2 linked regions of the Homo sapiens genome follow. The protein of the gene in region 2 interacts with the protein of the main gene of each other region in a pairwise test. Each region holds a gene or a part of one and is shown on either strand. Other genes may lie near its edges. The genes, in order: GPATCH11 and ZNF474.

Evidence for each region.
Region 1: the proteins of ZNF474 (region 2) and GPATCH11 interact in binary tests that used the Homo sapiens proteins (3 or more experiments, as listed by UniProt).

Annotation. Positions count from the first base shown.
Region 1 is NC_000002.12:37,090,935-37,094,977, reverse strand, and holds part of GPATCH11 (G patch domain-containing protein 11), read right to left. Parts: intron 3,063-4,043; coding exon 2,942-3,062; intron 2,838-2,941; coding exon of another isoform or gene 2,814-2,837; coding exon 2,723-2,813; intron 897-2,722; coding exon 783-896; intron 327-782; exon of another isoform or gene 218-326; intron 1-217.
Region 2 is NC_000005.10:122,136,046-122,139,545, reverse strand, and holds part of ZNF474 (zinc finger protein 474), read right to left. Parts: intron 1-3,500.

The sequences.
Region 1 (4,043 bases), on a different chromosome or scaffold from region 2:
TTGAATAATCTCCATTTCCTTTTTTTTTTTTTTTTGTGAGACAGGGTCTCGGTCTATCACCTAGGCTGGAGTGCAGTGGCGTGATCTTGGCTCACCGCAACCTCTGCCTCCCGGGCTCACGTGATCCTCCTACCTCAGCCTCCTGAGTAGCTAGGATTATTGGGTGCCCCACACCTGGCTAATTTTTGTATTTTTAGTAGAGACTAAAATACACTACCATGTTGGCCAGGCTGGTCTTAAACTCCTGACCTCAAGTGATCCACCAGTTTTGGTCTCCCAAAGTGTTTGGATTACAGGTGTGAGCCACCATGCCCGGCCTCCATTTTCTTTTGATTGTGTTTTTTTGTTGTTTATAAGTAGGAGAAAAAAGTACACATTAGAATGACTTGTAGAAGTTTTGCAGGAAATAAGGTATAAATTAAAATAATTTACATTTGTTGCTAATTCATCATCCAAACTGAAGCTGAGATGAGAGGACAAATGGAAGCTAAAGGGAAAAATTATATGTAAGTTTTGATTTGGGGTTAGTAAAGTAATCCTGCAATGCAGTACCTCTCAACCAGGGGTTATTTTTCCCCTCGGGGACATTTAGCAATGTCTGGAGAGGGTTTTGGTTGTCATAAGCAAAAGTGCAACTGGTATCTGGTGGGCAGGGGCCAGAGATGCTGCTAAACATCTTGCAATGCACAGGACAGCTCTCCACAACAACGGATTACCACAACTCAAAGTGCTAATGTTGCCAAGGCTGAGACACCCTATGAAGGAAATGGTGCAAAGCATACGCTTAAATCTTCACTCTTATATTCATCTTCATCCTGTTCTTTTTCTTCTTCATCTTCTTCAGTCTCCTCTTCAAGCCTCAACCAGTACCATGCTTCCCTGGGAACCTGAATATTCTGAAAATGCAGAAGTAGTCTCAATTAAACATACTAAACATAAGAGCATGACAAATATGTTCATGTCAACATGAATTCATTCTTTCAATACGTATTCACTGAGTGTGGCTTTAAGAGTAAAAACACTGGCCGGGCACGGTGGCTCACGCCTGCAATCCCAGCACTTTGGGAGGGAGAGGTGGGTGGATCACGAGGTCAAGAGATCAAGATCATCCTGACCAACATGGTGAAACCCCATCTCTACTAAAAATACAAAAATTAGCTGGGCGTGGTAGTGCATGCCTGTCGTCCCAGCTACTCAGGAGGCCGAGGCAGGAGAATTGCTTGAACCCAGGAGGTGGAGGTTGCAGTGAGCCAAAATCACGCCACTGTACTCTAGCCTGGTGACAGAGTGAGACTCCATCTCAAAAAAAAAGTGAAAACATTGTACCATGAACTATGGGGATGCAAAGTCCAATTCTTTAGAATTGTGCAGTTGTCTTTAAGTTCCTTCTGACAGTCTAGCAGGAAAGATAGGCTATGGGTACAAAATAATACATATATGCTACAAAATCATAAGTGCCATGAAATACATTCAAAGTAAAGTAATATGTAAGAACAGGAAAGTGAGAGATTGCTTCCAGTAATCTATATATAAGGGAAATTTTACAAAGCTTTTTGAGACTTCAAATGAAGTCATTTTATTTTCAGAGTACTTGAACCACTAAGATAAAAGCAAAGACAGAATTTATTTACTTATTTATTTTTTTTGTAGAGCTGGGGACTTGCTATGTTGTCCAGGCTGGTCACAAACTCCTGGACTCAAGCAATCCTGCAGCCTCGTCCTCTCAAAGTGCTGAGATTACAGACATGAGCCACCATGCCCAGCCAGAGACAGAATTTTTTAAAAACTATTCAAATTTGAACTAGATAGCATTCCACCTTGATTTTATTTTTGAGACAGGGTCTCACTCTGTCACCCAGGCTGGAGTGCAGTGGCATGAACATAGCTCAATGCAACCTCAACCTTCTGGGCTCAAGTGATTCTCCCACTTCAGCCTCCTGAGTAGATAGGACTACAGGTGTGTGCCACCACATGCAGCTAATTTTAAGATGTTTTGTAGAGATGGAGTCTTGAAATGTTATCCAGGCTGGTCTCGAACTCCTGGGCTGAAATAATCATCCTGCCTTTGCCTCCCAAAGTGCTAGGATTACAGGATTGAGCCATCATGCCTGGCCCACTCTGATTTTAATAGTTAGACATATATTAGATACTGAATAGGAACTGAAAATAGGCTATTCTTGTTAATCAAATATTATAAAGAACAGAATTTCTGCACATAATAGTCATAACTGATATTCAAATAAGCAGAGAACAATTAAATGTAAAATTTTATTTAACCCTTTTTGTTTTACTATAGTTAGTATAAAACTATAAAACTATAGTTACTATAAAACCCTGGGTTTTATAGTAACCCAGACAACTCAGGTTACTATAGTAAATAATAAGCCATTTTTATATCAATTGTCACAGATCAGAAGTGCACATTACATGAAAGCTTTAATGAGTAGATAAACCGGGCTTGGAGTTCTTAGTTTTATATATATATATAATATATATATTATATATATAAATACATAAAATATATATAATATATAAGACATATGTAAAAAATATATAAATATATATGATACATATAAATATATGTAATACATATATAAACATATAATACATATATAAATATATATAATACATATATAAAATATATATATATATAATAAATAAACGGGAAATCACAGGGGGTGCCAAAACACTTTACTAAACTGAAAGCTGGTAAAAGGCTTACTTTCTGGACATCCAGTTGTTGACAGGCTCGCTGGCTTCTTCTGAGATCTCCTTCTAGCTTCATTTCATCTTGCTTATTTTTAAGTCGCATTCTAATTGAAAGAAAAAATTGTAAACTAAAGGTCTACGTTATCTTTAACCATTTTATATGCCCAAGTACCAGAGAACATACCACAATAAAGAGGAAATAGAACCAAAACCAGCTCAAAAATAGTTTTACCGAAACTGTTCTGCAGCTTTTTCTTCAGCTTGGTTTTTCATGTGAATCTTTTTTCTGTAGCTTTCCAATTTTTCCTCTGCTTTCCGTTTTAATGATGCCTCATGACCAATGCCACTTTTCCCTATTCAAACAGAAAATTCTGATGAGAAACATCCTGACTTTGTGCTTCAAAACAAGACGATTTAACTATGTACAAATTAAATGCAATTCTCATTTGAGTACTATCACTCACAAATCATTTGAGTACACTAATAGTAGAAAACACTAGGGTTTTTTTTAAGCCCAAAACATAATCTGATTTTTACAAAGATTGTTAATCTCATCTTATAGTAATATTATAAACAATTTTTCAAATCAGAAAAACAGTATTAGCTGTTATAGTTTTATTTAAATATGAATAAAATATATCTTTTTCTCTTGAATTCATCCAAGTATTAAGCAAAACATTTGGTAGATAAATCTGTCTCAGAACACTTTTATTTTATTTTATTTTTATAGGGACAGGCTGGTATGTAGTGGCACAATCATGGCTCACTGTAACCTCGAACTTGTGGGCTCCAGGAATCGTCCCGCCTCAGCCTCCTGAATAGCAAGGACTACAGGTGCGTGCCACTACACCCGGTTAATTTTTTAAATTTTTTGCAGAGATGAGGTCTTGCTATGTTGCCCAGGCTGGTCTCAAATTCCTGGCTGCTTTTTTTTTTTTTTCCTTGAGATGGAATTTCACTCTTGTTGCCCAGGCTGGAGTGCAATGGCGCAATCTTAGCTCACTGCAATCTCTGCCTCCTGGGTTCAAGCGATTCTCCTGCCTCAGCCTCCCAAGTAGCTGGGATTACAGGCATGCACCACCATGCCCGGCTAATTCTGTATTTTTAGTAGAGATGGGGTTTCTCCATGTTGGTCAGGCTGGTCTTGAACTCCCAACCTCAGGTGATCTGCCTGCCTCGGCCACCCAAAGTGCTGGGATTACAGGTGTGAGCCACCACGCCCGGCCAACTCTTGGCTTTAAGCAATCCTTCTGCATCGGCCTCCCAGAGCAAAACAGTTTTAAGACATTTCAATGGACAAAAACAGTATTGCACATTCAATGGTTGTAATGATT
Region 2 (3,500 bases):
TATTTGAAAATTCATACATTTAGGGTTTGTCCTGTAAATATCATGAAGTAATGACAATTTTTTAGGTCACAAATCTTGATCCTTTTTAGTTGACTGCAAAATTCCAGTTATAAAATTGACAATAAAATAAATTTGGTTACATGAAAGATCATTACATTTTTAGGGAATGATAATGAAGCCTGTTTCATATAGGCAAGGAATGGGTAATGTTAATTTAAATAATTTTAGCTAAAACAGCATTCCTGTGCTACTTCTGGGAATCTCTGTTGAAAACTTTATTTAGAAACTGCTTAACACACATAAATGCCCCAATAGTTCAAATAATTAAACTCCGTTTGACATGGTATTTTACATTGGAAACAGGTTAACTGAAGGGGAAAGTGTGGTTTTAATTTTTGTTGATTGAAATGTCATATGTTTCATATATAAGATGGTTCACTTGGAACTGAACAGATAAAGCAATCCAAGATTTATCTGATTTTAATGTTTTACAATCATTTAGTACTTTTGAGTGGAAATGCCATGAACTGATTCAAGGAATGTAAATATTAACTTTTATTACACATTTATGATTTTAAAATGAACCAAAATGGAAAAAGTCTTTCACAAAATAATTATATATTTTTCCATTCTTTCAAAGGATATGTATACTTGATTGTCAAGAAAATAGAATTTTATCAGTTATACTTATTATCACCTCACTGAAGACTCTGCTTCCAATTGTTCAGACACATGAATACACATACACATACACACACACACATACACACATACATCACAGACCTTATGCATTCCTCTCCATATTTCTTCCGGGTCAAGGGGATGTATTGATAATCAATGTTATAATCTTCATTTAGTAATTAATCCATGCCACAATGCTAGTCCATCTGACACTTATTTAGTGATGATATGCTGGATTGTAACTAGGTCATATGGTACTAATAAGGACAATTGTTGGCTGAGAGTCTAACTGAAACTCGAGATTTGAGTCTTTGCCCAATTGCCTTTTTCTTCTATTTCCAGTCCTCACTACTCTTCGTTTTGTTCTTTGTTCATTTCACAATAATTTCACTAAAATAACCTTTTGAACATATCTTTGAACTTGGGAGAAGTCTCATTGGTGGTGAGGCCAGGCTGAGAAGATCATGAGGATGTTTGCCTTTGCCTCAGCTCTTCAAGTAGATTCCCCCTCTTATTGTGGGTTTGCATGTGAAATGCAAGGTAAGGAATTAGACAGTGAGGGAAAAGGGAAAAGGCACTAACAGACACTCTAAACAATATTTAGCATGTTTTTGTTTCCTATGTGATTGCCCATTAATAATTTGGCTGAAAAAAACATCTTATCCTATTCTATCATCTTCTTATATTTTCCTTCTGCTCCCCTTCTCATCTTAGTATTTTCTGCCTTTGCATTTTAATATATCTCCTTTCCCATGATTTTTCACTCCTGTCTTCATTCTACCCATTTGATATTGGATAACCTCTTGTGATATTACATCAATTTATGTAGAAGCATTTCCATATCTAGCATTGAAGTGGTTGGTTATTCCTTTTGGCTGTTTTGCCTGCACTCATAAATCTAATGCCAGGCAGGTGAACGGGTGCGCCTCGCATCTGTGGGCTGTTTCAACCACATAGGTGAAGAGGCACTTCCGCTCTCAACCCTCATCTATCCTTTTCAGAGCAGTCACATTTAACTCCTTAAGCTACAATCACAACTTAAACCTCTGCTGACTGACTGCTCCATGGTTGTCCCACTACTCTCAAAATAAAATCCAACCTCTTGACCTTGAATGCCCTCTGTAACCTGGTACCTCCCTCAGTCTCTGCCTATCTCCTTTTGCTCTCCCTTTTCTGCACCATGCTCCATCCATGTTCATCTCTCAGTTCCTCAGGCAAGTCAAACTCTCTCTTACTTTGGGGTAGACTGGGGGAGGGACTGGGAAGAGGCTTTGCACATGCTCTTGCCATTGCCTAGAATCTTCCTCCAGTTCTTTGCTTAGCTTTCTTATTTTATCCTTCAGGTCTCTATTTAAATATTGTCAACTCAGGCCTTTCTTAACTACTCTTTTTTTTTTTTTTTTTTTTTTTTTTTTTTTGAGACAGAGTCTCACTCTGTCACCCAGGCTGAAGTGCAGTGGCATAATCTCGGCTCACTGCAACCTCTGGCTCCAGGTTCAAGCGATTCTCCTGCCTCAGCCTCCCAAGTAGCTGAGATTGCAGGCACCTGCCACCACGCCTGGCTAATTTTTGTATTTTTAGTAGAGATGGGCTACTGTTGTTGCCCATGTTGGCCAGGCTGGCCTTGAACTCTTGACTACTCTTTTTCAAGTAATTTCTTTCCCTCTGTCCCAAACACACACACTTACACACCCACCTGCACCCATACACATGCACATACACATGCCCATTCATGTTCATTCATGGAACTGATATCACCATCACCATCCATCATAGTTATGTTCAGTGATGCCACTGTTTATCATCTTTACAGCACTCAGCACCTATGTTTTTGTCTGTTTGTTTGCATGTGTAATATTTATCTCTTTAAATTGCATGTGAACTTCGAGACAATAGAGACTTACTTGCTCTCTACATAGTTATATCACCAGCACCTCGCCCAGTGCCAGGCACATTGTAGGTCATAACAAAATAAATTTAATGTTGACCTAGCTGAGTGAGATTAGCTTGATGTTATATTAAATTTTTAAACAAAACTGAAGTTCATTATTTATATGAGGAATAAAAAACATAAAGGGGCTTTTGGAAAAGAAGTGTTATCAGACAGCTTTGTAATATTTTCTCAAGTCTTACACATATGTGATCATTTAATTCTTGTTCATTTTTATAATACTATCTCAAGGAATTAGAATTATAATAATATTATAGCTTTAAAAGCATAACTATACTGAATCCAAGATAAATGAGAATCTCTCCAAGGACCATGAACTAGACCAAGCACTATACCTCATGGTAAAGATTATCAAGTAGTGAGCAACCAGAATAGATGTGCTGCTGCTCCCTAGAGAATGGACCTAGACAGGCACACCAAAGGTAGCCATACGAGCAGCTAGTCACTTGTGCTGGGGGCACTGCCTAACTAGGTAGAAAGCTGAAGGAGAATCACAGAGTTTGGCTTCCCTGAGCTAAGTTTATTCATACATTGTTTTTCTTGACCACATATGTTCTGAGTGCTAATGACTTTCAAAATTTAATTTCCCTTGGAAATCAGATATCTTCTTTTTTAAATTTTTAATTATTATGAATACATAATAGTTGTACATATTTATGGCATAGGTATGATATTTTGATATAAGCATACAACATGTAATAATCAAATGAGGGTAATTGGGATATCTACCTCCTCAAGCATTTATCATTATTTTGTGTTGGGAACATCACAATTCTAGTCTTTTCATTATTTTGAAATACTTACAGTAGCTTATTTTTAACTATAGTTGCCCTGTTATGCTCCTGAACATTACGTCTTATTCCCTCTA